Regions from separate parts of the Homo sapiens genome. Here all the other regions are reported to be linked to region 3. Evidence: microRNA targets listed by miRTarBase, many of them from high-throughput screens and not tested one by one. Region 3 holds a microRNA gene; each other region holds the end of a gene's coding sequence.
The links. Region 3 holds the annotated microRNA hsa-miR-19b-3p (UGUGCAAAUCCAUGCAAAACUGA, at 3,969-3,991, shown strand). A microRNA usually pairs through its seed, bases 2 to 8, with sites in the 3' UTR of a target mRNA and lowers its output. Matches are read on the target gene's strand: a 7mer-m8 pairs with bases 2 to 8, a 7mer-A1 pairs with bases 2 to 7 and ends in A, and an 8mer does both.

Region 1 (7,573 bases), not on the chromosome of region 3:
TGTATCTTTGGAATAAAGACTTTAATAACAGATCGGGCTGACAATGAAAGCTATCGTCTCAATCCAAATTGAAGACAGGCTTGTTGTAGTCCAGTGCTGCTAAAACATTGAGCTAATCATCATAATATTTACAGAATCATATCAAGGAAGATCCTGAAATTAATAAACGGTTCTTGAGTAGTTATAATCCTTTAGGAGATTGTGAACATATAAAAATTATACTTTTTGACTATGGCAAAGTCCTAATCGTTTAATAATGTGCTGTTTGTCGAAGCTAGCCAAAGCATGTATTGTTTATGTGCACTCTTGAGGAAGGTGATGCCATCAGGATAAGGCAAGGCCTATATATTTCCTCATGCAGGGAAAGGTTAAAGATGATCAAAATGTTATAGAATTGAGAAGAGAAATCAATATAAAAACCATGGGCTTTAAAGCCCTAAATCTTACCATGACAAGTCCTGTGTCACTTGTTAGTGTGGAACATTGGCATCCTGTTTAATGTCTTTGAGCCTCAACCTAGCCATTTGAATATGGCAGTATTGAATAACTCTGTGTAGTTATTGTGCAAACTTAATGAAATGATCTCCTTCTTCATAAATTCCTTAAGTTATGAATTTCCTTCTGCCTAAAGGTGGAACTATATCAAGCACCTTGACTGAATCTTAGATATATTCCTGGGCTTTAAGATATTTAATGTAGTATATACTGGTTACAGATAAGTAAATTGAAACCAAGTCAAGTGATTTAACAATAATTATAATTATAATTAAGTATAATTAGTGAAAAACATGGAACTAAACAGGTCTCTATTCTTTTTACTGTTGTTTATGTATCCTTTGTTTAATTATAGATACATGTACATTTCTTAATTTGGTTTCAAGGATTCTTTTGTTCTTTGTAGGACTGACTGATTTTTTTACAGCTTTAATTTTAAATGCTCACATGACTTAACATTTGTTCTGGCTGAAAGGGCTATAATTGCTTTTTTCTTATTGTAACTGCCATTTAGGAACTTGCATTGTACTGTTGAAACTTTATTCAACCAAATTATAGCATGGGAAACTGGATTTTAGGTCTGGAAAAAAAGTCTGAAGGCTTGAAAGTATGATCACATCTTAATGACATAGAGTAAAATAAACTACTAAACTAAGGATATTTTATGTTTGCTCAATTTATGTTTTTTGTTTTAGATGGAAATAGAGAAGCTGAAAAAAGCTGTCCTGTCTTCTTGAGTGGTGTGGACCTGGTGTTCATAATGTTCCAGGGATTCAGAAGCAACGCTATGAACTTCAGCTGACTTGTTACTTAAAAATTGTGAATTCTGTTGTTGTGATAAATATGAGCAAATGAAGTGTAATATCTATAGAAAAGTAGAGTGAGGGTGAATTTATATATATATTTTGTTTTGCCAATATGAAGAAAAAGAGGCCTTATTTCTTAACTGTGCTGGGATTGCAAACACTTTTTAAAAAATTGTTTGCTTGAAAATACTACTGAATATAAATAAGAATGTGCACAGTAGTTTTTTTATTGAAACTTGTATTATTTTTAAAGAGATCTATACTATAAATATGGTGATATATTTACAAGTAATCTGTTAAGATATACTATTTGAGAGGGACAGATTAGCCTTTTAGTAACTATAGTCACTACTTTTTCCATAATGCATAAGGGATATAAACTCTGTGTGTGTGTGTGTGTGTGTGTGTGTGTGTGTGTGTGTGTGTATATATATATATATATTTTTACTTTTATCCTCTTACCGAAGGTTACACTGTTGTGCCTGTTTGTCTGCAATGCTGTTTATATTTTGGGTGATGAAATAGGAGTTTCCTAGCTATATAAACCAGATTACTCACCCATGCATATAGTAAGAACTAATGAATAATCAAAATAATTTCATCAACTTTTAGAATATTTTATGTTGCTTGCACTATAGGAGTCATAAAAGGAACTTAGTTAAAATATGTTGGATTGTTAAACATTTGGGGAAATATGAACTGTATTTTAAATTTGTTAGGTCTGAAGAATCTAAAACTGTTAATTTAACCCTTAACTTGTGCCTAGAAACTACAGCACATATAAAATATGTAAACACCAGCCTGTTGCTGTACTTTTCTGCTTATTTTACAGCCTCAAATATTTCTCATTATCTTGTCACTTAGTTCTTCATGTTTCTCCTTCTGACTTTTAATAATGGTAATAGGAAAACAAAACCCAAAGCTTTTCAGAACTTCAGTGTGAGGTTTCCTATTTTGACAAGTTAACTTGTAAATACTCAGGTTTTACGATGTATAATTTACCTAATAGACCAAACTAACTCATGGAGATATTTTGAACTATTATTTAGGTACAAACTTTATAAAGAATGTTAGTATGTCATAAAATATAACATTACAGCTTATTTAAAACCAAATATAGTTGAACATATTTAAAATACATTTTCACAGAATGGATGAATTAGTTGTTTCTTCAGAGTTACTTATGAACAGTTGAATGCTTTAAAATGTTCTGTCTGTAGGTAACATCTAAAACACAAGTGGGTTTATTTAAATTTTTAAAATTTGAAATTTTTTATTTGCAAAAAATTGTTTTATGCTTTATTATATCGCAAATGAGTGTCAGATTTTTGAGTACCAATGATCATGCTTCCATTTTTTTTAGTTTTAAACCACCAAACCAATATTTTTCCTTTAAATTTTAATCTTATAATATAGAAATCTTATGTAAATGAAATTTTGTCATGTTTCAAATAAAGAGAACTGAAGTAGAAAATAGAAATGCCAGTAAACAACATAATGTTTAATTTACAACTTACATTAGGGGTTTGGGGGAATGCTAATTATATATTGAGAATATACATTAGAACTCTTCAAAATGGGCTCTTCTAATGAGGTCACTACTGAACAAAATTGTTCCCTCTTCTGTTAAATAGAATAGGTTTAAATGACTAGTCAAATGAATTATTTTCTTCTTGTTAAATAAATTAAATCTTACTTTCTTTTAATGACCAACCTTAGGTAAAACAAAAATATTGTAATCCTAGAAATTATCCTCCAGCTTTCTCACCTGAAAATCTATTGAAGTGATCCCTGGTCATCCTAATAATGGGATGAGGGAAGTTTCCAGCAGATTTCAGGCTGTTCTTAAAGTTTTTGTTGGTCATTTTCTCAATAGTACATGAAATCAAGATGCTTATGAGCATGGAAATGTATTTAAAGTTTTTGCTTGTGTCCTCCTCAGTCAGAATAGAAAAGTAACTGAAATACTTTTACCTTTCTGTCCTTGATAAAATAGTAAAGAAAACCAAACAAACCCAGGCCTGATGGGAAAAATGATTCCTTTATTCTAGCAACTTACTTTCTGTTGGTATGGGAAATGTTATTAATTTCTATTACTAAAGTTCATATCACAAAATGATATTTAATAATAACCTTGGGGTAAATCATGAATTTTTTTTCTACGTGTGAGTATAAAAGACAAAAGTTGAACAGCATGGAATCTCATTGCCAAATTATTAGTGAATGTATAGTTCAGGTATTCTTTGAGACACACAGTATCATTAATTTCTGAATTGTATTTCAGTGTTATTTTTTGTTTGTGACCACTAAGCTTCTGTCTTAATACAAAGCTGTTACCTTCTACAGAATTTAAGTCTGAAGATGTAAAGAGAGAACAGGCCTTGTGTAACAGAAGATACTCTTTTTTATGCTCCTTACTGTGATCACAGAAAAATTAAAAATCCAAGTGCTCTCTAGATTTGTTGATAAACATTTTATGCTTGCATTTAAACTTGAAATGTATGAGCAGAATGAGACAATCAGTTAAATCAGAAATGAGAAGTATTATAATGTAAAGGCCTTGTTTTGCTGTAGCAATAAAATGACCAAGTGCAATGACTTGATTTAATAAAATCATATTTTAAAAGTTGCTGCTATGAATATTTTTGGCTATAAAATTTTACCCTGACTTGCTTTCAATAACTGTTACGTAATGCAGTTGATGTTGTAACCTAACATTCCAAAAAAAAAATTGAGAGGGGGAATCTCAAAATAGTATATACTTCACTAACTTGTTTACAGGTGCTGTATTTAAAAGCATGCTTCTCTCTCAAAAAGAAAAATTAAAGGATTTTATTGCCAGTCGTGTCAGTCTTTATTGGTTATTTTTTGTTAACTTTAGCATTTGTGTATTTCAGAGTATGATGAAAATTATATTACTTCAATTTCCAAATACAAGAATAAATAGTAAACCAAAAACATTAAAAATTCTAGACCCGTATGACTTTTACTGAACTTTTCTGAGTCTGGTTTTTCATCTGAAACTGAGACAGTAATTTCTACTTTACAGGATTATGGGGAGAATTTGAAATAGTTTATCTAAATGGCTTTGTAGAGTGCTTGGCATAGAGTAGGTTTTTTTTAAAAAAAAAATGGAGGCTGCTGTTTTACCTTTTTAAAAAGCATTTTACAGTGATGGATATGATAAAAATTAGATGGATAAGGTTAAGAAAAAGGAGGCATTGTGTATCCTTTCCCCCTGAATACGGTATAGTATCCTTTTCTTTGGGGAGATGCTCCTTTCATTTGTATTATATTGTTCAAAGGGGAGCTGCTACCATCTTACAGATTCTACCTCCTTGATCACCCCACCCAGGAAATCCCTTGAGAGAGTACTTGGCTCAAACTGAGTTACTGAGTTAATCAAAGAATGAAATTTTTAAAATTGGAAACAAAAAGAGCTAATCTCAGCATGGGAGCTCTCCACAGTTCTGTTTTTCTGTCATCTGGAAAAAGCTGATTTGAAAAACAAAATTTAGTAGAGCATAGATAGATGGAAACAGAATCTGGAAGGACTTTGAAACTGATTGTAGCTGTTGCTGAGTCTCAGCTGTCTATTGCTTGGTTCTATAAGCACAGACTTGCTCATAAGCTTGTTGGGTTTCTGAACTCACAACCGAAAAAGTCCTGATAAATAACAGAAAACAAGATGAAATCAGGAGAACATTAAGGTCCACATACTTTTGCTGAACATAGATCACATATAGCTTTAGAGATTCTAGTAGTGTGCTGGAAGATTTGAAACAGAAGGAATAGGACACCACTATAAAGCAATGTGGAAAATTAGTGTGTCATAAGATTTTTAAAATCTTATTTAAAAAATTTCTAGTTCTTACTGGCTTTTAGAAGCACTAGACAAAAAACTTTGGAGGCATATAATGGTAAAAGTTTTGGACTATAGAATTTGTGTTTGAAGAGTGCAGATGGTTTTGTCTGAAAATACAATTTGCAAATTTAGCCCAGTTCTAGGAAATAAAAGCAGGTAGCAGTTTAACTCACCTGGATTTATTAGGCTGTATTCTCAAGATGCAAGAGAGACTGGGTCTGGGTGTTAAAATTTTTTTTTCTGAATCCTGTTGCATTTATTTTACCACTGACACCATTTTTGTGAATCTGCTCTTCCATGTAAGGAAAATAAATTCACAAATAGATATCAGTATTTTTTGTATAGAGTCAATAGTTTTTTTCTGTCATGAAAGGTGTGGCTATTTTGCAACTATTGGATGGTATTATTTCCTATCAGGTTCCAAGTGTTTCTTACTGACTACATTTCAGTTCCCTTTAAAAGTGTGTGAATAAAGTTATTGAAAGTAAAACTACATTTTAAGTGCATTGAGAAACTTTTTTTTTTTTTTATTCCAGTCAGGGTCCTTCTCTATTACCCTGGCTAGAGTGCCGTGGTGCGACCTCAGCTAACTACAACCTCTGCCTCCTGGGCTCCAGCAATCCTCCTGCATCAGCCTCTTGAGTAGTTGGGACTACAGGTGCATGCCACCACACCCACCTAATTTTTTTTTGTTTGTTTTGTTTTTGATACTGGGTTTCACCATGTTGCCTGGGCTGGTCTTGAACTCCTGAGTTAAAGCAATCCGCGCTGCTCCCCTCGGCCTCCCAGAGTGCTTGGATTACAGGCATTAGCCACCATGCCCAATGAGTAACAATTCTTTAATAAAATCACATGTTAACTTTTCATGGTAGAGTGGATTTTTAGAGATATTCCTAAACATTAACTGAACAGAATGTAAACGATGTGACGGAGTGATGACATTTTTACTGTCTTTTCCTCCCTTGAGACTCATTAAAAACAGTAAGTACAATGAAAAAGATTTGATATTAATAGATTAAAAAGCAGATTTAAGATAAAAACATTGCTTTTCAGATGAAATAAGGAAGCTACAATTTATAATAGTAAAAATACCTTCCAAATGTTTTGGAGGGAGCAACCTGAAATCTGATATAAACTTTCCCAGACTTTGTGCCAGATGCAGATTTCTCTGAAAGGCTCATCTGATCATTGTAGGCTCAAATCCTGTACAGAAGGATAGCTGGGGAATGTGGAGCTGAAAGAGAAGCCTCACTAACTGTAAGCCCTAATAATTGGAAGTCTGAAAACCAAGGAGAAGGAGACATGCTCTTAGGGAAGACAGATGTAATGAGAGAATATTTTGGCTAACAATTTATAGCTCTTCTTCCTTGCTGTGCTATTCATCAAATAACTGACACCATGGAAACGTGAGTAATCAGACACAAGTATCTTTATGGATACCTGTGTTTTATATAACAAAAAAAAAGTTGTCCAGAAGAAAACCTTGATTAAAATCCTTTATGTCCCAGGAGGAAAAAAATGGCATGATATGTAACACCAAGACATCTGTTAAGTTATGGAACTTTAAAGAATGAATACTGACTCAAAGAAGAAGTTGAAATTTTTAATTGACTAAACACACCGTAAGTGAATTTGAAACGTATTTAAGGCTCTACAACTGAGAAAGACAGCAAGGCCAGATGATGGCTGTGTTTTAATTGGTCTTTAAGCTACTCAAACTGTAGAAAAAGATGGAAAGCCACCCAATTTATTTTATGAATCCAGCATAACTTTAAACCTGATCATCATAAACCAAATCTCACAGGGAGAGATTTCATATCAGGAAATTTATCAATCTCAATGCATGATATGAAATTATAAGAGAAAAATAAAATGTTCACTTTGATAAAAGGAAGGGGTTTCCTGTACTGGGTATGGTGGTGAAGAACACAGTAACAAAATGGTACCACTGTCTTGATGCGTGCCTAGCAGTTCTAGTCACCGTCACCACTGCGTTTACACTAGCAGTGCAAATCTCAACACAATGAGAAAAGCAACTAGCATCTTCGTATTATCATGAAAGTTGTTTTGACCTTGTGGACCACACTTTGAGAACCACTGACCTAAAATGACCTAGTATGGTCTTTAGCATGTAGTAGACAATCAGTAAATGTTTAGTGGATGAATAAGTGACAAAAGGGGAGGTATTCTCTCTACCCCTTGTCTTTACCGTCTCCTACCTTTTCTTCCTTCCTCAAATATTCAAGTATAATATCTCCTCAAGACTAACCACTATCATGCCGATTGCTATAAAACAGACATTCTTCCAGGGACTGCATTAGGCTCTTAAAATGTATTTAACAAATTTTATATACTGGACTTTAGATGGTCAGTTTACCCTACATTTTATAGTAAACTTACCTTTAAA
Region 2 (7,613 bases), not on the chromosome of region 3:
AGGTCCCATCCACATGCTCCCTCCTTTTCCCTTCCCATTTCCTTTCTTTACTAATTCTTCTACCATACTTTTTAGTCTTGGAAGCCACAGCCCTGTCTTTGCTACTGCTTCAGTCCTGTATTGCATGGCATGACTGTGCTTCTGAACAACAGATGCCTTTTGTTTACATAAATATTTAAGTAATGGTTTTTTTTAAATGCATGATTATTTTTTAACTCTAGTTAAGCATCCCTGGATAAGTGACAGTTTGGCTAAGTTAGTGAAAGTTATTTACATAATTTATATATTTATTACCTGTGACAAATAGTTTTTCCTTTTTTCCATTAATGGTATTTATTATTTTGTATAACCTAAACTGACTTTTAATGTTACATTAATATTGACTGACCCAATTACTTTATTAAAAATAGTGGTCAGTTCAGGTAATTGGGGCATATAGTGACATGGGGCAAAAAAAGGATCAAATTAACTTAAATGTTTTTCTAGTTGGCCCTTAAATTCTTGAGCATTTAACCCTTCAAAAATTTTTGAGCAACTACAAAAATGTTTTGTAATTAGTTTAGAAAGCATCCTTACAAAATTAGATCCATCTCAGAAATATGAGACGCCATGTAATACAAAGTTTTGCAACGATGTCTCCTCAGGTTGAAAACAGATGTGCCACAGGAAGACACTTCTTAATGTAAAAGTCCAGAGACATCTGAAAATACATGATGTCATAAAGTTGATTTCTAGATAATATTACATGGATTTGATACATACTCAATGTATTCCCTCAAAATTGAGGGTGTTAGGCCGGGTTTGGTGGCTCACGCCTGTAATCCCAGCAACTTTGTGAGGCCGAGGCAGGCCGATGGCTTGAGCTCAGGAGTTTGAGATCAGCCTGGGCAACATAGTGAGATGCTGTGTCTTGAAAAAAAAAAAAAAAAAAAAAAAAAAAATCAAGAGTGCTAGAGACCGGTACCATTTCTCCCCAACAATCTGTTATTCCTTGAAAACATTTTGACATGAATCACTTCATGCAAAATGGCTTCAAAGATAAACATATTAAACAGGAATTTCCAGTCTGTTTATCTGCTGGATGATCTATATGACTTCAAAGTTCAAGTAGCTTCTAGCACAAAATTCATGTTTCCAGTCCTTCAGTGAGAATGAGAAAGTCTTAAGTTATGAACCTAATTCTCAGCTTTCCTGCTACTCTCTTACACTGGATTTTATCCCACTTGTTATGCTACTCGTTTCTTTTTGGTTTGAAGTCACTATTTTATTCAGCCGTTTTCTCTTCCTCTGTTCAGCACATACCTAACTGATGAGACCCACAGAGAAGTAAAATTTACTTCTCTCTGAGAAGGAGAGATGAGAGAAAGGTTTGCTTTTATCATTAAAAGGTATCTGTTTTCTGTTGTTTATTTTCAGATGTCCTTTCTTTTGAAAAATATTCAGTGGATATATAGATATCAATAACCTGAGCAAAGAGATATTGGCAGTAAATATCAAAGAGGAAATTTACATTCCTGTTCCCTTTGCTAAATTATTGATGTGTTCTTATACCATTCCCTTTGAAAACATAATGTGTACTGACAGGCTTTGACGTAGGCTTTAAATAGAGTTATGTTCCCCTAGTCCTTTTATCAGACGATCTCACTTCTACCTTGTAAAACAGCTGTGAATCCAAAAGTAAGAATTTGTGAGCCAACTGGGAAATAACCACAGAATCAACTCATTTTAAGTGCAAGGAGGAAAAATGCCCTTTTATAGAAACCAAAATATATTTTACTTAGTTTTGTAAATTTATTCAATTCCAACGTATAAATAACTCTGTAAAGACATTTTATCAGTTTCCCTGGGCTGGGATATTTTTAGCATATCAAAGGAAAACAAAAAAGTCCTCAGATTTTGAAAAGTAATGGATTGCATTGCCTTAAACCCTTGGACCCTGTCCACCTTCTGTCTTTGAACTGAACTGGAATTATTCCTCTGTTTGTGCTAGAATGTGTGTCCGCAGAGCTGGGAAGAGATGGAGATACATATCCCACCTCTTATAATGTGAGGCCCTAACCTAGGTTATAATTAAAAGTTTGGGAGCAGGATCTACAAAGGCCAGCTGGAAGGACAATTTCTTAGTAAAAGCAAAGTGATGTCTTTGGTTACAGGAGGAAAGGGAAAGACAAAACATACCAACCAGAATTGGCGGTCTGGGCCTACCCAGTCCTATATACAGTAGTTCCTTCTTATCCACGGGGGATACATTCCAAAACCTCTAGTGGTTGCCTGAAACCTGGGAGAGTACTAAACCTTATATATACTGTTTTCTCTTAAGCATGTATACCTATGATCATTCAATTTATAAATTAGGCACAGTAGGAGATTAACAGCAATAACTAATAACTAATAATATCAATTATAAAAATATGCCAGCATCACTACTCTTGTGCTCTGAGGCCACTAAGTAAAATAAGGGTTACCTAACCACAGGTACTGTGATACCGTGACAGTCAATCTGATAACCAAGACAGCTATTGAGTAACAGGCACATAGTGTCCACAGCATGGGTATGCTGGACGAAGGGATGATTTATATCCCGGGAGGGATGGAGTGGGACAGTGTGAGATTTCATCATGATACTCAGAATGGCACACAATCTAAAACGTAGTTCTGTAATTTTCCATTTAATATTTTTGACCGTATTTGACTATGGGTAACTGAAACCGTGCAAAGTGAAACCGTGGATAAGGGAAGCCTACTATATCTTCTTAGTCTCTTAGGACACTTTTGAGACTAAAGCCAACTAGGAAAATAGTTTTTAGACTCTCTCTGAGCTTCAGGGTATCTGTAAACATTTGAAGATAATTTAATGAATGCTGTAGTTAATATTTTGCCATCTTCAAAATAGCTTCATTGTTATATCCAATAAATGTTTCTTTAAATTTATGTTAATGCCTTTTATCTTTGGCATAGATTGGATTTTTATTTAAAACTTTATTTAAAGAAAGAGATTCTACTACTATGGGAAAAAAATATTTACTTAGAAAAATATAGTGGTGGCCAGTCCTGGTGGCTCACACCTATAATCCCAGCACTTTGGGAGGCCGAGGCGGGCGGATCACTTAAGGTTTGAGACCAGGTTGGCCAAAATGGTGAAACCCTGTTTCTACTAAAAATACAAACATTAGCTGGGCATGGTGGTGCACACCTGTAATCCTAGCTACTCAGGAGGCTGAGGCACAAGAATTGCTTGAACCTGGGAGGAGGAGGTTGCAAGTGAGCCAAGATCACACCACACTGCACTCCAGCCTGGGTGACAGAGCAAGACTCTGTCTCAAAGGAAAAAAAATAAAGAAAAGAAAAGAAAAATATAGTGGTCTTGGAGAATTCAGTGACAGGCCAAACCATTAAGTCTGTCATCACAACAGTCCTTAGGGAACTGCAATATTATAAGTATAGTAATGACGCAGTAGAGAACCATAATGATGGCCTCCCCGGCAAAGAAGAACCAACCCGTTTACGCCTGAGGTTGCAATTTTTTGAATTTTTGCAGTCAGACCCTGGCGATGACCTTGAGCAGTAGGAGATAAATTCCACATGCTTAGCGTTCCAGTAATGGAACACTAGGCATAAATGGGTTATTAAAGTATCCAGAATTAACATGCTTAGCTGTGACATTGGAAAGGCAATGTGTTTGCTGTGGCACACATACTAGTAAATAATGACTGGTCCGAATTTGGTTTTCGTTTGTCTATTAAAGTCAATTTACTAAGGCAGGGAGGGCCCAGAGCTGTGCTGTCCAGTTCAATAGCCATGCGTGACTGCTAAGGACTTCCAAAGTGGCTAGTCCAATGTCAGGTATGCTGCAAGTGTCAAACACACACTGGATTTCAAAGACTAAGCCAAAAAAATGTAAAATACATCTCAATATTTTGGTTATACTCGGTTAAAGAAAATAAAATTATTTTTGCCTTTTTATGTTTTTAAAAGTGGCTTCTGGAAAATTTTAAATTACATGTATGACTGGCATCATCTGTCTTTGGCCAGCACTAGACTAGAATAATAGGTTTTATAAAGATGTCTATTGTTATACTAAAAGTGTGACGTAAACTTTAGTTATTTAGGAGACTCTTAGTGGAATACATGATTTTCTTGACAGTGAGGGGTAGATGAGGCATCACATACTTGAACAGTTAGAACCACTATCTTTTTAAAGGTTCTGTGCCAGAGCTACAGCTTTAAAATGGAGGGATCAGGAAAGCATGCGTTTGTCTCCAGTCTTTCCCATTGGCCCTACATCAAAATGAGGACATAGTTACTAAGTACTTTGTGTGCTACTGCTCTATTTCTTGTTTTGGAGGGGATCAAAAATATAAGACAGGGATAAAGGAAGGTTTTTTTTACAGTGAGACCAGTTGAACATTTGAAATTATTTTAAAAGAATAATTTATTTCCCAGGTTGGTGGCTCATTACTATATTTTTTTAATTGTTCATTTTCTGAATAGGCTTCTGGAATTTAATTTCTGTACTTAATTATATTTATCTTTGACATGATCTTTATACCTTGGTTTGCAGGAAAGCAGATGGTGGAGCTGAATATGCCACTTACCAGACTAAATCAACCACTCCAGCAGAGCAGAGAGGCTGAATAGATTCCACAACCTGGTTTGCCAGTTCATCTTTTGACTCTATTAAAATCTTCAATAGTTGTTATTCTGTAGTTTCACTCTCATGAGTGCAACTGTGGCTTAGCTAATATTGCAATGTGGCTTGAATGTAGGTAGCATCCTTTGATGCTTCTTTGAAACTTGTATGAATTTGGGTATGAACAGATTGCCTGCTTTCCCTTAAATAACACTTAGATTTATTGGACCAGTCAGCACAGCATGCCTGGTTGTATTAAAGCAGGGATATGCTGTATTTTATAAAATTGGCAAAATTAGAGAAATATAGTTCACAATGAAATTATATTTTCTTTGTAAAGAAAGTGGCTTGAAATCTTTTTTGTTCAAAGATTAATGCCAACTCTTAAGATTATTCTTTCACCAACTATAGAATGTATTTTATATATCGTTCATTGTAAAAAGCCCTTAAAAATATGTGTATACTACTTTGGCTCTTGTGCATAAAAACAAGAACACTGAAAATTGGGAATATGCACAAACTTGGCTTCTTTAACCAAGAATATTATTGGAAAATTCTCTAAAAGTTAATAGGGTAAATTCTCTATTTTTTGTAATGTGTTCGGTGATTTCAGAAAGCTAGAAAGTGTATGTGTGGCATTTGTTTTCACTTTTTAAAACATCCCTAACTGATCGAATATATCAGTAATTTCAGAATCAGATGCATCCTTTCATAAGAAGTGAGAGGACTCTGACAGCCATAACAGGAGTGCCACTTCATGGTGCGAAGTGAACACTGTAGTCTTGTTGTTTTCCCAAAGAGAACTCCGTATGTTCTCTTAGGTTGAGTAACCCACTCTGAATTCTGGTTACATGTGTTTTTCTCTCCCTCCTTAAATAAAGAGAGGGGTTAAACATGCCCTCTAAAAGTAGGTGGTTTTGAAGAGAATAAATTCATCAGATAACCTCAAGTCACATGAGAATCTTAGTCCATTTACATTGCCTTGGCTAGTAAAAGCCATCTATGTATATGTCTTACCTCATCTCCTAAAAGGCAGAGTACAAAGTAAGCCATGTATCTCAGGAAGGTAACTTCATTTTGTCTATTTGCTGTTGATTGTACCAAGGGATGGAAGAAGTAAATATAGCTCAGGTAGCACTTTATACTCAGGCAGATCTCAGCCCTCTACTGAGTCCCTTAGCCAAGCAGTTTCTTTCAAAGAAGCCAGCAGGCGAAAAGCAGGGACTGCCACTGCATTTCATATCACACTGTTAAAAGTTGTGTTTTGAAATTTTATGTTTAGTTGCACAAATTGGGCCAAAGAAACATTGCCTTGAGGAAGATATGATTGGAAAATCAAGAGTGTAGAAGAATAAATACTGTTTTACTGTCCAAAGACATGTTTATAGTGCTCTGTAAATGTTCCTTTCCTTTGTAGTCTCTGGCAAGATGCTTTAGGAAGATAAAAGTTTGAGGAGAACAAACAGGAATTCTGAATTAAGCACAGAGTTGAAGTTTATACCCGTTTCACATGCTTTTCAAGAATGTCGCAATTACTAAGAAGCAGATAATGGTGTTTTTTAGAAACCTAATTGAAGTATATTCAACCAAATACTTTAATGTATAAAATAAATATTATACAATATACTTGTATAGCAGTTTCTGCTTCACATTTGATTTTTTCAAATTTAATATTTATATTAGAGATCTATATATGTATAAATATGTATTTTGTCAAATTTGTTACTTAAATATATAGAGACCAGTTTTCTCTGGAAGTTTGTTTAAATGACAGAAGCGTATATGAATTCAAGAAAATTTAAGCTGCAAAAATGTATTTGCTATAAAATGAGAAGTCTCACTGATAGAGGTTCTTTATTGCTCATTTTTTAAAAAATGGACTCTTGAAATCTGTTAAAATAAAATTGTACATTTGGAGATGTTTCATGATGATGTGTTTATTTCTAGTGGGTTTTGTCTCAAATTGAAGTATGTTTCTAATTGGGCCCATCTTCTAACCATTCCACTCCCACAGCCATTCCTCCTGTCCCTCCTAGCTCAGACCCTTAAGTATCCCCAGGCTTCTCCACTCCCAACCCATCACATAGATACTGCACAGATATCCAGTGACATCACATTACCTACTGGATGAAGTCCACATTTCTTAGCCTGATACTTGAAGACCTTTTACAATTAAATCCCAACTTTCTTCCCCAAGCATTTTCTATTGCACTTCTTCAAATAACCTACTCTCAGTCAAGCCTGACCATTTCCCCTGTGCTTTCTGCTGTATTCCTAGTTCATTGTTGCTTGAAACACCTACTGTCCTGTTGAGATCCTATGCATCTTCCAAGGCCCAGCTCAGATATTACCCTTCATGAAACTGTGCCTGATTTCTGCCCAGCTCTTATAGTCTTTATTATTACCTAACCTTGGGATAGCCACATTTAAGCATCTATATATACGTGTCCAGTAGAAGATATATCTTCTGCATCCTATGATCGCATATGTAGAGCTAAATAAAAACCCAAGTCCTAACAAAGTATAAAATTTATGTAACTAGTAGGATTTGGTTGTTTCTGCAAAAATCATTGTTGCTCTCTCTGCAGATTTGAATTAAGTCGGATTGCTAAATTTCTCAGAGCAGGCTTCAGTGTTTCTCAACCATGGCTGCACATTGCAATCACCGGGGGATATTTACAGACACCTGGGTCCCACCCCTAGAGATTTCTAGTGTAATTGATCTGGGATGTGGTTTGGGTGTAGGGATTTCCAAGCGTCCTAAATGATTCCAAAGTGCAGCTAAGGTTGAAAACCCATGCATTAGTAAATCTCAAGCCCCACAGTAAATTTTTCTATATAAACTTGTAAAGATAGAAGTTAAAGGCTTATATTTATAGAAGAAAATTATGGCTTTCTTAATTCAGCCTATTAAATCAGAAAATTTCATTGAAGACTTGAATTAAGGTTTTGTTGTTTGGCTAACTGAACAAGGCTAGCTGTT
Region 3 (7,613 bases):
TAAACTGTGATCGCACAGCGTACACGTCGAGTCCCAGGGAGAGCAGGGCTCCCAGGAAGCCCCGGGAAGCGTGCGCTTCCAGGAGGGTGTGCGGCGCGCGGGGGTCTGCACGCGCGCAGAGCTTGTTAACGGAGGGCGTGCCGGAGGCGTGGCGCGAGGTGTTCGGGCGAGGCGCTCCGCGAGGCTGGCGGCGGTGGGCGGGCCACGGGGGAGCGCGGCCCGGGGAAGGCTGCGCGGCGCCGCCAGCGGCTCCCGGCTCCCGCTCTCCCGGCCGCCAAGAACGAGCCGCCGTGGGCGGGGCCTGCGGTGATTGGCGGGCGGGCGGGGAGGTCGGAAGTACTTTGTTTTTTATGCTAATGAGGGAGTGGGGCTTGTCCGTATTTACGTTGAGGCGGGAGCCGCCGCCCTTCATTCACCCACATGGTCCTTCGAGGTGCCGCCGCCGCCGCCCGACCTGCGCCTTCGCGCCACTTCGCGCCCTCGGGCGAGGCCGAGGGGGTGGGGACGACTACCGCAGCGCCGCCGGGGCTCGCGCTCCTCCGCGAAGCTCTCCTCGCGGGGCGGGCCGGCCGGCCGCACCCCCGGCCTGGGGCCTCCGGTCGTAGTAAAGCGCAGGCGGGCGGGGAGGCGGGAGCAGGAGCCCGCGGCCGGCCAGCCGAAGATGGTGGCGGCTACTCCTCCTGGTGAGTCTGCCCGCCCCTCCGGCGACGGAGGGAAACCTGTTGTGTGCGGCCCGGGTCTGGCGGGCGGGGCGGAGCGGCCCGGGGCGGACTGGCCCGGGGCAGCGTGGCGGCGGCGGCGTGGCCGGGGCGGGTCTCGGCCGTTGGCCGCCCCGGCGTGTGGCAGCCGCATCTGGCTGCCCCCTCGCTCGCCCGCGGGCCGGCGGAGGGGGGCAGGGCCGGGGCGGGAGGGTGGGAGGGGGCGGCGTGCGCGTGGCGGCCGCGCCCGGGACCCGCGCAGACCCTGCCTGGGCCGACCCGAAGGCGGGTGGGCGGACGGCGAACACAATGGCCCCTCGGGGAGAGGACGTGCGAGGCCCGTGCCTTCTCCGGGGCCCGGGGCGCGCGCGGGGCGTGGGGTCTCTGGGTAGGAAAGTTTCTCCCGAGGGCGAGAGTTAAAGCGCCTCCAGAACAAAGCGGCGGCGGCGGCGGCACATGGGGCAGGCCGCGGGCCGGGAGGGGGCGCGCCCACGAGGTACCTGCGCGCCAGCGGGCGGCGTGGCGTGGGCGGGAGCCCGCGGTTCCCCAAACTTTGTACGCGCGAGGGTGGGCGGAGGGGCGCCGAGATCGGCGCGGCCTGGGCGCCACCCCCGCTCCGCGTGGGCTTTGTTAGCCCGCGTGGGCAGCCTCGGGGCGGGGCCCGCAACTTCCCCGCCGTGGCCCTCGGAGGAGGCCGCAGTCGGCCTCAGCCGCGGCGTGGAGCCGCCTGCGCCCGGCCGCTTGCTGGGAGTGTGGCGCGGGAGGGCCAGCCCGGCTCGGCGGGAGCGGCGTCCCCGCCGCCATGTTCCTGCGGGGCGGGCTGCACGGGGGTGAGGGCGGGGGACATGGCGGCGACTGCGCGCCGCCGCCGATTGTTCCCGGCTTAGGCCTCGGGCCGCGTGCGACGGGCACCGCGGCCGCGGAGCCCCCGCCCCTCTGGGCCGGGCTCGGGGGGGCTGGGGGACACAAAGGAGGGGCGGCGCGCCCGCGTCCCCGCCGCACTCGGGCCTCGGCGCCGCCGGTCGCCGCGCGGCTGCCGCCGGGAAACGGGTTGGGGGGGTTGCCGCGTCCGGCGGGGCCTGACTCTGACCCGCCGCCCCCTGGCGGCTACGCGGAGAATCGCAGGGCCGCGCTCCCCCTTGTGCGACATGTGCTGCCGGCCCGGGCTCCATGAGCGTGGCGGGCACTTTGCAGTCTCGGGTGTTCCTGCCCGGTCTTCTGTTCCTAAACTGCAGCAAAGGGAAAAGGAACTGAAAAAGGCAGGCTCGTCGTTGCAATATCACCAAAAGAGAAAATTAACGGCATGCCATCAGGACCACAGCAGTTGGAGAAACAACTCTTTATCCCGGCTTGCAGCCACGAGGTCTTGATTGGGGGAGGGGTGGTGAAGAATAGTCTGTGGGCTGCTTTTTTTTTTTCCTTTTACTGGAGCTGTACAGTGGAGTCGGTGATTGCTGCTGATCATAATCAAGTATTTTAGGAGCTTATTTAGACATGTATCTGATAGCTAAGGATTTTTCAACTTTATTCTCTTACGTATTTTTCAACTGTAAATTATTGGGCTTTTAAATCCTGCTAGTATTGCTCGACTCTTACTCTCACAAATGGATGGAATTAATTGCTGTTAGGAGGTTGGAAAATAGCAAATATAGATTTGGACGGTGGTAGTAATTTTGAGCAAATAATGTTTTATCTTTTTTTTCCTTATTTTTCCCTATTCCAGTCATACACGTGGACCTAACTGCACCAGTAGCTTTTCTGAGAATACTTGCTGAAAAGGAAGTTTTCTGGAATGGGTAAGTGTATTCTGATTTTCTTGAACTTTTCTTAAAAACAAATTTTTCTTGCTATTAAAGTTGAATAAATAGGATTGGTTTCTTAGAGAGTAAAAGTAGGTGTTTCTTTCTTTAGACAATGTACCTTTTCTGAAAAACTAACTCATTAAGTACGGATTTGCTAATTTTAAGGTAGTAAAATTACAGTGTAAATATTCCTGTACATTTTTGGAAACTGGCTTATGCAGTTTACGAAATATAATTTTAGACCCTCTTTTAAGTTGGGTGATAAAGTAGATATAACCTGAGATGATAGATTTAAACAGGATATTTACGTTCTGCTACAATTGACTGATAACACTTGAAGTGTAGTCTGAACAGTAATTTTGTTAATCATTTCAACAAGTATTTGCTAAGTGGAAGCCAGAAGAGGAGGAAAATGTTTTGCCACGTGGATGTGAAGATTTCCTCTAAAAGGTACACATGGACTAAATTGCCTTTAAATGTTCCAAAATTAGTTCTCATTTATTTGCAGTCTCATTTTGTTTTGTTTTTTTTCTCTATGTGTCAATCCATTTGGGAGAGGCCAGCCATTGGAAGAGCCACCACTTCCAGTGCTAGTTGGATGGTTGGTTATGATTGCCTTCTGTAAAGAATTCTTAAGGCATAAATACGTGTCTAAATGGACCTCATATCTTTGAGATAATTAAACTAATTTTTTCTTCCCCATTAGGGATTATGCTGAATTTGTATGGTTTATAGTTGTTAGAGTTTGAGGTGTTAATTCTAATTATCTATTTCAAATTTAGCAGGAAAAAAGAGAACATCACCTTGTAAAACTGAAGATTGTGACCAGTCAGAATAATGTCAAAGTGCTTACAGTGCAGGTAGTGATATGTGCATCTACTGCAGTGAAGGCACTTGTAGCATTATGGTGACAGCTGCCTCGGGAAGCCAAGTTGGGCTTTAAAGTGCAGGGCCTGCTGATGTTGAGTGCTTTTTGTTCTAAGGTGCATCTAGTGCAGATAGTGAAGTAGATTAGCATCTACTGCCCTAAGTGCTCCTTCTGGCATAAGAAGTTATGTATTCATCCAATAATTCAAGCCAAGCAAGTATATAGGTGTTTTAATAGTTTTTGTTTGCAGTCCTCTGTTAGTTTTGCATAGTTGCACTACAAGAAGAATGTAGTTGTGCAAATCTATGCAAAACTGATGGTGGCCTGCTATTTCCTTCAAATGAATGATTTTTACTAATTTTGTGTACTTTTATTGTGTCGATGTAGAATCTGCCTGGTCTATCTGATGTGACAGCTTCTGTAGCACTAAAGTGCTTATAGTGCAGGTAGTGTTTAGTTATCTACTGCATTATGAGCACTTAAAGTACTGCTAGCTGTAGAACTCCAGCTTCGGCCTGTCGCCCAATCAAACTGTCCTGTTACTGAACACTGTTCTATGGTTAGTTTTGCAGGTTTGCATCCAGCTGTGTGATATTCTGCTGTGCAAATCCATGCAAAACTGACTGTGGTAGTGAAAAGTCTGTAGAAAAGTAAGGGAAACTCAAACCCCTTTCTACACAGGTTGGGATCGGTTGCAATGCTGTGTTTCTGTATGGTATTGCACTTGTCCCGGCCTGTTGAGTTTGGTGGGGATTGTGACCAGAAGATTTTGAAAATTAAATATTACTGAAGATTTCGACTTCCACTGTTAAATGTACAAGATACATGAAATATTAAAGAAAATGTGTAACTTTTTGTGTAAATACATCTTGTCTTGTTTTCATTCAAAAACATTTCACTTTTGGGGTTGCGTGTCAGATTTGGCAGTATAAATTCTGGCTATATTTTTTGTTGTTAGATTTATTTGGCTGTTAAGTATTGCGATATGACTAAACATACTGTATACCTGATGATCATCTGTAAAGTTAGAGTATATCTTTTTGCTTTCTTTGGAGTTAGTGTTATTCCAGGATATTTTACTTAATCTAAAAGTTAATTTATGTTGCTCATATATTACTCAAGTATTTAAATTTAGAGAGAATGCCGCTCTGTTTAAAGCAATGTGTAAAGATGAGTTTTTTTAAGCATGGAATTTAGGGTTGGGGTACAATTTGTTTCTATTAAGCAAGTACCAGTTTACCAATACATGAGTAACTGAAGTGTAACTGTTAAATGCTTGTATACTAGTTTTTCTTTCTGATTGTCAGTGATTTATAAGCTATAAATGACCAAGGTCCTCAGACTGCTTTTAGCATCTGCAACTTAAAAAAATGGGAGTTAGAAAAAGAACAAATGCTAAATAGAGTAACAGTTAAATGTATGTGTACACTCTTCCCAAATGCCAAGAGTGCAGCGGTGGGGTGAGATTCAGATATTCATTTATTTCTAAGTCTGTAGTTAACATTTATGTTCCCTACTCCCTACGTAAGCCAGACTTTGGCAACAGTGATAGTTGATTCCAGGCTTATTTGACTTAAAGTCACTGAAGTGGAAACTAAGAAGTGGCAGTTAGTGTTTTACCCAGCATTTCTGCCTTCTCTCTTTTCTTCATGTGTTTTTGTCTCTAGCCTATGTGTATTTGTGTAGAATAATGTGGGATACCTGAATAATAGATTTAAAAGGACCAAGTGGTAAAATTGGGCCCAAGCTGAAGTACAGGCAAACTTGATGTTTGAAAGATAAGTTTTGAGAAATGTCATTGTATTTTGGAGTAAAAGAGGCTATCTTAGTAATAAGAAATAAACTTCCATAACACTAGGTTAGACCACCCAATAAATCTAGAAATCAGCTTTTAAAAATATTGTCTGAAGTCTAACAAAAGTTTTCACCTCTAATGTGTTCTTTAAGAAATTTAAGGAACTTAGCCTTGGATTCCTGAATAGAAAGGTAAGAATTCTATCATTCTGGAGTTGATGAAAACATAAATTTTCAGGATGTGAAATGAACAGTGATTTATAAAATGGAAATCAAATTGTACATTAGCAGAGTTCTTAAGCTTTTTGAATTGAAGGAGACCTAATAATTGTGTCTTTTTGGTTATTTAGTGACAAACGTGGCTTTCAAACTATGCTTAAAAAGTTCCGGCTGGACACGGTGGCTCACACCTATAATCCTAGCACTTGGGGAGGCTGAGGCAGACGGATTACCTGAGGTCAGGAGTTCGAGACCAACCTGGCCGACATGGTGAAACGCTGTCTCTACTAAAAATATAAAAAATTAGCCGGGTGCAGTGGCGTGCACCTGTAATCCCAGCTACTCTGGAGGCTGAGGCAGGAGAATCACCTGAACCTGGGAGGTGGAGGTTTCAGTGAGCTGAGATCCTGCCACTGCACTCCAGCCTGGGCGCAAGACCAAGACTTAAACGCAAAAAAAAAAAAAAAAAAAAAAAAAAAGTTTCATAATACAGCATGGTCTGGTAGTTTGCAAAATGGTGTGCTTTTGGGGAGATACACTAGCAATTTTTTTAAAAACTGGAACAGTGTGATAGGAAGCCTGCTGGATGATTTCTTAAATATTCTAAAATGTAAGTCAAATATGTTTTAATAACAAAGACTTAAATGGCTTTTCTCCCTAGAGACTGAAACTAGTATTCATTGTGTTCAGAACTTAATTGGGCTTGAACTGAGATTTAAATCTAATAAACAAGTTAATAAATGTGTATGTTTTGTTGTGGGTTTGGTAGTGATCTGTGGTTCTATAGGGTTTAATAGGAATTGCTTTTGATTTGTTTCTGGCTTTAGAATGTGAGGCAAATTTTACATTCTTGGTTCTATTAAGATTTTCTTAGGCATGCTAACATGCCAACAAAAAGCCATGTAAGTATTGTATAAAAAGATTCACATTGTTAATTTAGCCATTTTGAAATTCAGATGAGTGAGCAAGTTGATAATGGCCTCATCTCTGACCTGAGAAAAAACAACTTTGACCCTTGTTCTTAAAATGCTTTAACCTTGAAGTTGCTTGAGACTTAAGAGGTCATGTTGCTTTAGGTTTAATAAATAGCCTTAACTATTTGGAGGGGAAAAAATGGGTCAACTTTTTTTTTTTTTTTTGGCGTTTGCATGTACAACTTTCTATTTTTAGCCTATATTTGGAAAGAAAGCACTTAACATTTTAGGAATTCTTTTTAAAGCTGCTTGCAAAGTGTTGGTGATTTTACTGAAAACTTTTGAGATCTTCATTTTACAGGCAGACCTGTCTAACTACAAGCCAGACTTGGGTTTTCTCCTGTAGTTTGAAGACACACTGACTCCTGACAAAATGCAGCCTGCAACTTCCTGGAGAACAACTCAGTGTCACATTAAAGTTTATTATGTATTTAATGATACACTGTTTAATTGACAGTTTTGCATAGTTTGTCTAACTTTAGAGAATTAAGAGCCTCTCAACTGAGCAGTAAAGGTAAGGAGAGCTCAATCTGCACAGAGCCAGTTTTTAGTGTTTGATGGAAATAAGATCATCATGCCCACTTGAGACTTCAGATTATTCTTTAGCTTAGTGGTTGTATGAGTTACATCTTATTAAAGTCGAAATTAATGTAGTTTTCTGCCTTGATAACATTTCATATGTGGTATTAGTTTTAAAGGGTCATTAGGAAAATGCACATATTCCATGAATTTTAAGACCCATAGAAAAGTTGAAGAATGCTTAATTTTCTTATCCAGTAATGTAAACACAGAGACAGAACATTGAGATGTGCCTAGTTCTGTATTTACAGTTTGGTCTGGCTGTTTGAGTTCTAGCGCATTTAATGTTAATAAATAAAATACTGCATTTTAAAGCTGTTAAGAAATTGTCCAGAACGAGAATATTGAAATAAAAACTTCAAGGTTATTATCGCAGTTTTTATGGCGTTTTTGTTTTGTCACTACAGATGGTCTAAAGGTTACTTATTAATTAATTGGGGAAGTGGAGACAAGGACCAAAGTTTATCTGGATTTTCTTATTTAATCTTCATTACCTGTGAAATATGTATTTGTATTCTTACTTTACATATGAGATCAGAAGTTCATTTTCAAGCAGAATGGAAAGGTGGTAAATGGACTCTGAATTAAAATATGTCAGTATTTTAAAAGGTTATCTTCTGCCTAGTATTTTTATGGAATCTGACAAGTTCTCAGATCACACTTGTTTCCTTAAATCTTG
Region 4 (7,613 bases), not on the chromosome of region 3:
CCCCAAGACATGAGCCCCAGGGAAGGACAGGGCACCCAACCCCGGAGTCAGTGAATGGGAAAGAGTGGAAGAGGGAGGGGAGCCAGGATCTCACATGCCTGCCCCACCCTTTCTGCCCTCAGGTGGAGAGTGTGACTGCAGGATCCCCACTCACCAACCAGTTCTGGCTGCTCCCCGAGGTGTCTGCTACAGGGCTGACCATGACCTGGGCCGCCTGCACCCTCGTGTGATGGCCTTGAAGGCCCAGAGCCCCATCACCAACCTCTGACAGGTATACTCACTGCCCCATGTTGTCAGGACCTGAGACCCTGGGCCCCTGTCGCCCAACGTCCTCTGTTCCTGCCCTCAGGCCCTGCTGTCCCCTGCAGCCTCCCATCCCCTGAGCAGGGCTGCCTGGGCAGGCTGTGGCCCCTGTCTGATTGGAGCCAGCTCTGGGTGGCCCTCATGTGGAGGGAAGAGCACCAAGGCCCCACCCTCCCCTGGGCCTGCCTGGGTGCACACTCAGGGGCCTCTGCTCTTGCCTCCTAGGCCAGGGTATCTTCACCTGTGGACTGGTAGGGGCCCTGCAAGGTGCCCTGCTGTGCAGCAGCGCCATCCTGAAGTGGAACTTGTACTCAGACCTTAAGGATCTTGTCTCTAGGATCTGGGCACAGAAGAATTAGTTCCATCAGGGAGGAGTCAGAGGAATTTGCCCAATAGCTGGGGCATTAGTTCCTTGCACATATAAACCACTCTTATTTGGTTCTGATGCCTGAAGAGAGGCCTAGTTTAAATCACAATTCCGAATCTGGGGCAATGGAATCACTGTTTCCAGCTGGGGCAGGTGAGATCTTTCCACCTTCTATAATATGCCATCCCTACTAATAGGATATTGACTTGGATAGCTTGATGTCTCATGACGAGCGGCGCTCTGCATCCCTCACCCATGCCTCCTAACTCAGTGATCAAAGCGAATATTCCATCTGTGGACAGAACCCCTGGCAGTGTTGTCAGCTCAAGCTGGTGGGTTCAGTTCTGTCCTGAGGCTTCTGCTCTCATTCACTTAGTGCTACGCTGCACAGTTCTACACTGTCAAGGGAAAAGGGAGACTAATGAGGCTTAACTCAAAACCTGGGCATGGTTTTGGTTGCCATTCCATAGGTTTGGAGAGCTCTAGATCTCTTTTGTGCTGGGTTCAGTGGCTCTTCAGGGGACAGGAAATGCCTGTGTCTGGCCAGTGTGGTTCTGGAGCTTTGGGGTAACAGCAGGATCCATCAGTTAGTAGGGTGCATGTCAGACGATCATACCCAATTCATATGGAAGTCCCGGGTCTGTCTTCCTTATCATCGGGGTGGCATCTGGTTCTCGATGTGCCAGCATCAAGGCACCTTCAGGGAGCTCGGTACCCGAGCCTCAATCAAGCCTTATCCTCCAAATATGCAGGGAAAGGTGACACAGGGCAGGGAAGGGTGACGTCAGGAGTCAGGGCATCGACTGGTAAGATTACTTCATTGTGTTGAGGCAGGCTGCAGGGCATTCCACACAATGGCACAGCAGAGGACAGCACAGGGAGGCAACAGAGTGTTCCCAGCAATGGCCCAGCTACTGAAAGCAGGCAGCCAGGCTGGGAGGAGTCAGGTGGCAAGAGAGTTGGTCAGGAGCAGAACATGGAAAGCCAGAGAAAGTGTGCAAAGCCCAGAAATGGCATCTGCAATTTACTGGTACATGTGTGTGTTGGATGGAAGGTGAAGGAAGGCTCAAAAGGCATAAAAAGGACCTTTCACTTATGTTAAACTGACATGCCAAAGGTCTTATTGGAGTTCATCTTAATATAATATTAATAAATTTATTGGCCGAGCGTGGTGGCTTACACCTGTAATCCCAGCACTTTGGGAGGCCAAAGTGGGCGGATCACGAAGAAGAGATTGAGACCATCCTGGCCAACATGGTGAAACCCCGTCTCCACTAAAAATGCAAAAATTAGCTGGGCGTGGTGGCACGCACCTGTAGTCCCAGCTACTCGGGAGGCTGAGGCAGGAGAATCGCTTGAACCTGGGAGGCGGAGGTTGCAGTGAGCCAAGATCATACCACTGCACTCCAGCCTGGTGACAGAGCAAGACTCTGTCTCAAAAATAAAATAAAATAAATAAATAAATAAATGTATTAAATCCATTGCTTTAACATTTTGAAATTTATTTTGGTTTCTGTTCAACAAAACCAAACCACATTGGGATGGCATTTACAGAAGCTCAGAAAAACATTATGCACTGAAAAATACTTCTCATTAGACCACAACAAGCTTTAAAAAAATAAAATTAAGTAATTATAGTTAAGTTACAAAAAGCTGAAAGTATAAAACATTGTGGAAACAGTGACCATCTATTAACTGGGAAAACACAAAAGAAGAGAAACAATTTCAACCATTAATCATTTATCAAACATGAAGTCTGGTGCATTAAAGGAATATCTATCAGAGGGTGAGGGGCTGGCTTACTGGCAGTTTGACATACTATACAGCTCAGACCCAAACCCTTCACAGAGAGACTCTAAGTGTACATCTGACTTGCAGAACTAGACGAGTTGAGTCACTGTTAGCTCTGGATATACCGTTAAATTAAACCTCAAAATCTCTCCCCAGGACTCTTGCTCAAGCAAGTCACGCCAAATCCAACCTTCCTAACAGGGGTTTTCAGAAAATGGCCTGCAGAAGCACAGGATCTGGTGCCTCACAGTTTCCTCCATGCTGCAATGCTCTAGTTCTCATCACGCCCATAGCATCTGGCATCAGGTTACCCTGTACAGTCAACGGCCATAGAAGTCGCCAGCAGGGAAATTCCAGAGGTTTAGAATTCTATCAGCACATGTGTCACTGGAAGCCATCATGGGAGTACTATGTCAGAGCGTATGTAACTAGCTGTCAGGTCTTTCCCCGTTGCCTCAGCCTTTCTACACAGACTGGCCTTCAACTTCCCCTGAGTCCAGAAGTAGACTCTTTCAGCAACTCTATTCAGGAATCTGCAGCAGGAAAACTGCTTCCTCTATTAACATCTATGACTGAAGCACAGATGTGTCTAATAGAAATCACCCTTCACCCAAAAGCTGGGCGCAGAAAGGGAAGCCCTTAGCTGACTATAGGAGGTGCCTCTTGTGGCTCCACGTGCTTCTTACACACCACCCCCCAGCTTGAGCGATGCCTCAGCCAGCTCACCCTCATCCACACAATCGCTAGAAAACATGCTTCAAATATTCTATCTTTGAAAAGACACCATGCAGAAAATAAGCTTTCCTCTGATGTGCGGTATTTTCTTCAATGCTATTTCTTTCTTTTTTTTTTTTTTTTTTGAGACGGAGTCTCGCTCTATTGGCAGGTTGGAGTTCAGTGGCACGATCTCGGCTCACTGCAACCTCCGCCTCCCGGATTCAAGCAATTCTCCTGCCTCAGCCTATCTAGTAGCTGGGACTACAGGTGCACGTCACCATGCCCGGCTAATTTTTGTATTTTTATTAGAGACGGGGTTTCACCATGTTGGCCAGGATGGTCTCGATCTCTTGACCTCGTGATCCCCCCGCCTCGGCCTCCCAAAGCGCTGGGATTACAGGGGGAGCCACCGCGCCCGGCCTTTCTTCAGTGCAATTTCTAAAGAGAAACTTAAATCCTGTTGTATTCTTTCAACACAAGCAATGATACTTCTCAGAGTCTGCTCAAAAGCTCAGCTCTGTGGACTCCGTGACAAAATGTACGCGTCCACTGCCGACCCTCTTGGTTTCTGAAACCAACCTTTCTTCCTGCTCTCCTCTTTAAGAGCAAACCCCAACATGTATAAGGTCACAGCAAGTGGTAGCCAGGAAAAGCTGTGGGACCCCTCATTTGAGTCACATCCATATGGCATGGAGAAAGAAAACCTCTCTGCCAGAAGGAACTGAACTCTGGAAGTCCTAAGGAAGGTCACCATGATCAGCAGATAGGAAAGCATTGCCAAGGGCTGTCCCTCAAGAGCTTAGTTTTCTTAGGGAGACCAGAAAGACATCAGATCCTGACTGCCCTGTTTTGCTCAAGTTCTGAAATGAGTGGCATGATGAAGAGCTGGTGGAGCTGAGGGAAAGAGTCAACCATGTGGGGTGGGGTAGTGAGGAAGGTGTATGAGGAAACAAACTGGGCCCTGACGAAACAGGCGGATTGGGGAAGGAGAAAGAAGGAAGGGAGAGAAACCTAACCAAAGAAACATGGGAAGCTGGAAAGTCGAGGGCACAGCCGGAATAAAGGCACAGATGGGCACCCCACAGGAGGGGCCTTGGCCAGGTTGGGATGCAGAGAAAAACAGGCAGGAGGGTGTCAATCTATAGCATCCTGAACCCCAAAAGGTCTGTAACTGGATTCTCTAAGCCTTGAGAAGTTCACACCAAAGCTTCAGACCAGGGAAAATATTTTGGAAAGATCAGTCTTTCCAAGAGTGAGCTCCTTTCCAAGAAGCTGGACAGGAAACCCAATAAATGTGGATCTGAAAAAACAAAATCCAAGAGAGAAGCAAAATGGGCTGGGGGTGTGCAATAAGAGAAGCAAGGAAAATGGAAAGACTGTAGCTGAGGATCTTTTATTAAAAAAAAATGGATGGGACTTTGGTGATGAGAGAGAAAAAGGGCAAAAGTCTGCAGTTAGGAATTTAGGTGACCGAAGACTGTCCTAGACAGTTGGGAGGGACAGGCTGATGGACAGAAGAGAGAAATTCCTTTCAATGACAACCAAGCTGAACTATTCGATACCAGCAGAACTGGGTTCTTTAGGGATTAAGCCAAGACAAAGACTTGGGAATCACTCACTCCGAGGATGAAGAATGGGTTAATGGCTGAGGAGACAGTCAAAGGAATAGAGAGGCCTGGCTTTGAGGGCCTCTTCACCACCAGCACAAGATAAGGCAAAGGACCATTTGTCAGAGACACCAAGAAAGGGGAATTTCCATTTGGATGGTCAATAGTGTCCAGTTCTGCCAAGGACAAGACTAAGCTTTGAGAAAAAGCCATGGATTTGGTGATTGGATAACTGGTAACCTTTAGAAAAGTTTAGTTGACAGACAGAGACCGAAGTGAGTTAGTAAAAGTCATGAAGAGAATGAATGGCAACTTAAGGGAAGCAACATACTGGAGAAGTTGAGCAGCGGGATGAATAACAAATAGGACAGATGGGAACAGAAAAATCTGGGTGCATACGAAGGTGGATGGAAAGGAGCTGGTACAGATGGGCACAACCAGAAAACATGAGGAGGGGAAAGGAAGGGAAAAGGAAGGCAGGCAGGGAGAGAGACGTGAAATAGCCACAGTCTTAGGGGATGCTAGAGAAGCCTAGAAGATTCCTCAGGTTGGTGCAAAGTATTATAAGACTAACGCATCAGTACAGAGAATGACCCAAGAAGGGTAGGAGTTCATTCCTTACCTTCATAAAGTAGGCTATCCGCCAAGAATGAAAATGTCAACTCAAAGCTATGGGCTGTTTTAAGCAAGGTGGAAGATAATATAAGAAGCATGGTCCTTTCTTCAGACTTACTGCCTTGACAGCACAGAATTCATCTTATTTCCCTCATCTCCCAAGTTATTTGTATTTCCCTGAGATCAGCTCAGAAACAACTCTCTTTAGGCTCTCTACAATGCGGTAGAGCATGATTAGAAAAGATAAACCTTCAAACAATAGTGTTGTCCAAGACACTACCCTCACTTATCCCAGGGGAACCCACGGAATTTCTTCATTTGTATTAACTCCTGACATGGCATGGAAGAAGAATTTTTATCAAATACCCTTGGCATCTTATATCAGATTAAAGGACCATTAAATACACTGAGGTAAAATTGGCAGAGAGTATAGTTTCTATTAATAAATCTAAGTCTATTTTGTCTGTTTTAGGCAACAAAGGCAAAATGGACTTTGTGGGAAATGTATCTCATAAAAGCCCTTTGGAAAAACTGCAGACCAAAACCAAAACCCTCCTTCATGTTTTCTCGCATGAAACATAAACTTGCCCTATTTCAAAAAGTTCCTACTGAGTATGATTGTGTGAAAGATCACACTACTTCAAATCATATTTATTTTAAAAATCTGTGATGGGACAGTGGCCTCACTGCCAGGAAGCCCAAGTTCTGTTTTATGCTCGGTACAACTAAGTGGAAGTTGATTCACTTTGTCTCAAGCTACATAAAATAATCAGAAAATCAAGAAGATCTCATGCTAGACAGGTTAGACTTGCACCCAAAAAAGCATCTTTTTTTTTAACCTGCTGTTTTGGTTTGCTGCTGAAGTCTTTGAAGAGAATTATGTATTCAAAGTAGCTCTTTGCCCATTGGCATTTCCCCATCTTCTATGTCTTCTGTAGGGCACATCCCCCCCAAAGTAAGAGGCCTTAGTAGAAAAGCACTTCCACCTGCAGTTTTCCCCTAGGTCTGCAGAGAGAAACAGTGCAGAGTGCAATGCCACAGTCAAGGACCAACTTTCCTACAGAGCCCGGGCCCCAGGGAGGGTGGTCAGCAGCGCAGCCTGCCCAGGCTGGGATCTCCCTTTGGTCATAGCCGTGTTTCCATATACCCCTCCACTCACCCTCAGAGGAGGAACGGATGGAAGCCACCAGCATAAATAAAGGGAACACAGAAGAACAATGTCACCAAAGTGCAGGTGCAAAGCCCAAAGCAGCCCCCTACCTCTGCCAGCCCAGACCCGCCACTAAATTCTAGAGGAGGGTGTCTCTCAGGTCACAGTACTTTTTTCTTCATTTCTTTTGATTTAGAAACAAATCAGCAGGGAGGACAAGGTTCTCAAGGACAAAAAAATCAAAGCTGAAACGAGAGCAGCACAATCCATTGGTGACGTTCATCTTTTTCCAGAGGAATATACCATTCTGTTAGGACTTAGGGGAAAAAAGATCTTTTAGGAGGTGCAGGGAAAACATTCAGAATTAAGACATACTGACCCACCACCACAGAAACAGCAATTAATTAAAATAGCACACAAAATGATTTTTAAAGTTTGAAATGAAACCTAACACTAGAAAGATATACACTTGATGGAGAGAGAGGAATCCTGGCTTCTGCTTCATACTGTTCTGTACTGTTGTGAATTATTTACATGTGTTTTTTGTTGGTGGTGGTTTTCTTCTTTTTTGAGACGGAGTCTTGCTCTGTTGCCCAGGCTGGAGTGCAGTGGCATGATCTTGGCTCACTGCAACCTCTGCCTCCGAAGTTCAAGCGATTCTCCCACCTCGGCTTCCTCAGTAGTAGCTGGGATTACCATGCCCAGCTAATTTTTGTATTTTTAGTAGAGATGGTATTTCACCATGTTGGCCAGACTGATCTAGAACTCCTGACCTCAGGTGATCTGCCTCCCAAACTGTTGGGATTACAGGCGTGAACCACTATGCCCAGCCACATGTGTATTTTTTTAAAAATCATAAGCCATGTGTGGTGGCTCACGCCTGTAATCCCAGCACTCTGGGAGGCTGAGGTGGGTGGATCATTTGAGGTCAGCAGTTCAAGACCAGCCTGGCCAAAAGGGTGAAACCCCATCTCTACTAAAAATCTAAAAATTAGCTGGGCGTGGTGGTGGGCGCCTGTAATCCCACCTACTCGGGAGGCTGAAGAGGGAGAACTGCTTGAAC

Region 1: the mRNA of CD2AP is a reported target of hsa-miR-19b-3p. The part of its 3' UTR that is shown has no 7-base or 8-base seed match.
Region 2: miRTarBase lists CD46 as a target of hsa-miR-19b-3p. Seed matches in the 3' UTR shown: 7mer-A1 at 5,913-5,919.
Region 4: the mRNA of TGOLN2 is a reported target of hsa-miR-19b-3p. Seed matches in the 3' UTR shown: 7mer-m8 at 6,635-6,641, 7mer-m8 at 5,337-5,343 and 7mer-A1 at 4,522-4,528.

The regions. Positions count from the first base shown.
Region 1 is chr6:47,622,996-47,630,568 of GRCh38, forward strand. It overlaps CD2AP (CD2 associated protein), which reads left to right. Exons shown (of 18, transcript NM_012120.3): 18 at 1,191-4,268. The coding sequence ends at 1,232. Among named protein-coding and RNA genes, the nearest start is that of ADGRF4, 72 kb to the right of the region's middle.
Region 2 is chr1:207,788,958-207,796,570 of GRCh38, forward strand. It overlaps CD46 (CD46 molecule), which reads left to right. Exons shown (of 13, transcript NM_172351.3): 12 at 1,296-1,388; 13 at 4,562-6,547. The coding sequence ends at 1,347. Among named protein-coding and RNA genes, the nearest start is that of MIR29C, 9.2 kb to the right of the region's middle.
Region 3 is chr13:91,347,277-91,354,889 of GRCh38, forward strand. It overlaps MIR19B1 (microRNA 19b-1), which reads left to right and starts at 3,916; the gene lies at 3,916-4,002. It overlaps MIR17HG (miR-17-92a-1 cluster host gene), which reads left to right and starts at 411. Exons shown (of 3, transcript NR_197388.1): 1 at 411-683; 2 at 2,422-2,494; 3 at 2,880-7,301. It overlaps MIR17 (microRNA 17), which reads left to right and starts at 3,329; the gene lies at 3,329-3,412. MIR18A (microRNA 18a) reads left to right here and starts at 3,475; the gene lies at 3,475-3,545. It also overlaps MIR19A, MIR20A and MIR92A1. RefSeq lists silencers at 80-859, 910-1,899 and enhancers at 1,449-1,996, 1,997-2,544.
Region 4 is chr2:85,315,876-85,323,488 of GRCh38, forward strand. TGOLN2 (trans-golgi network protein 2) reads right to left here. Exons shown (of 4, transcript NM_006464.4): 4 at 2,152-6,866. The coding sequence ends at 6,861. Among named protein-coding and RNA genes, the nearest start is that of TGOLN2, 8.3 kb to the right of the region's middle.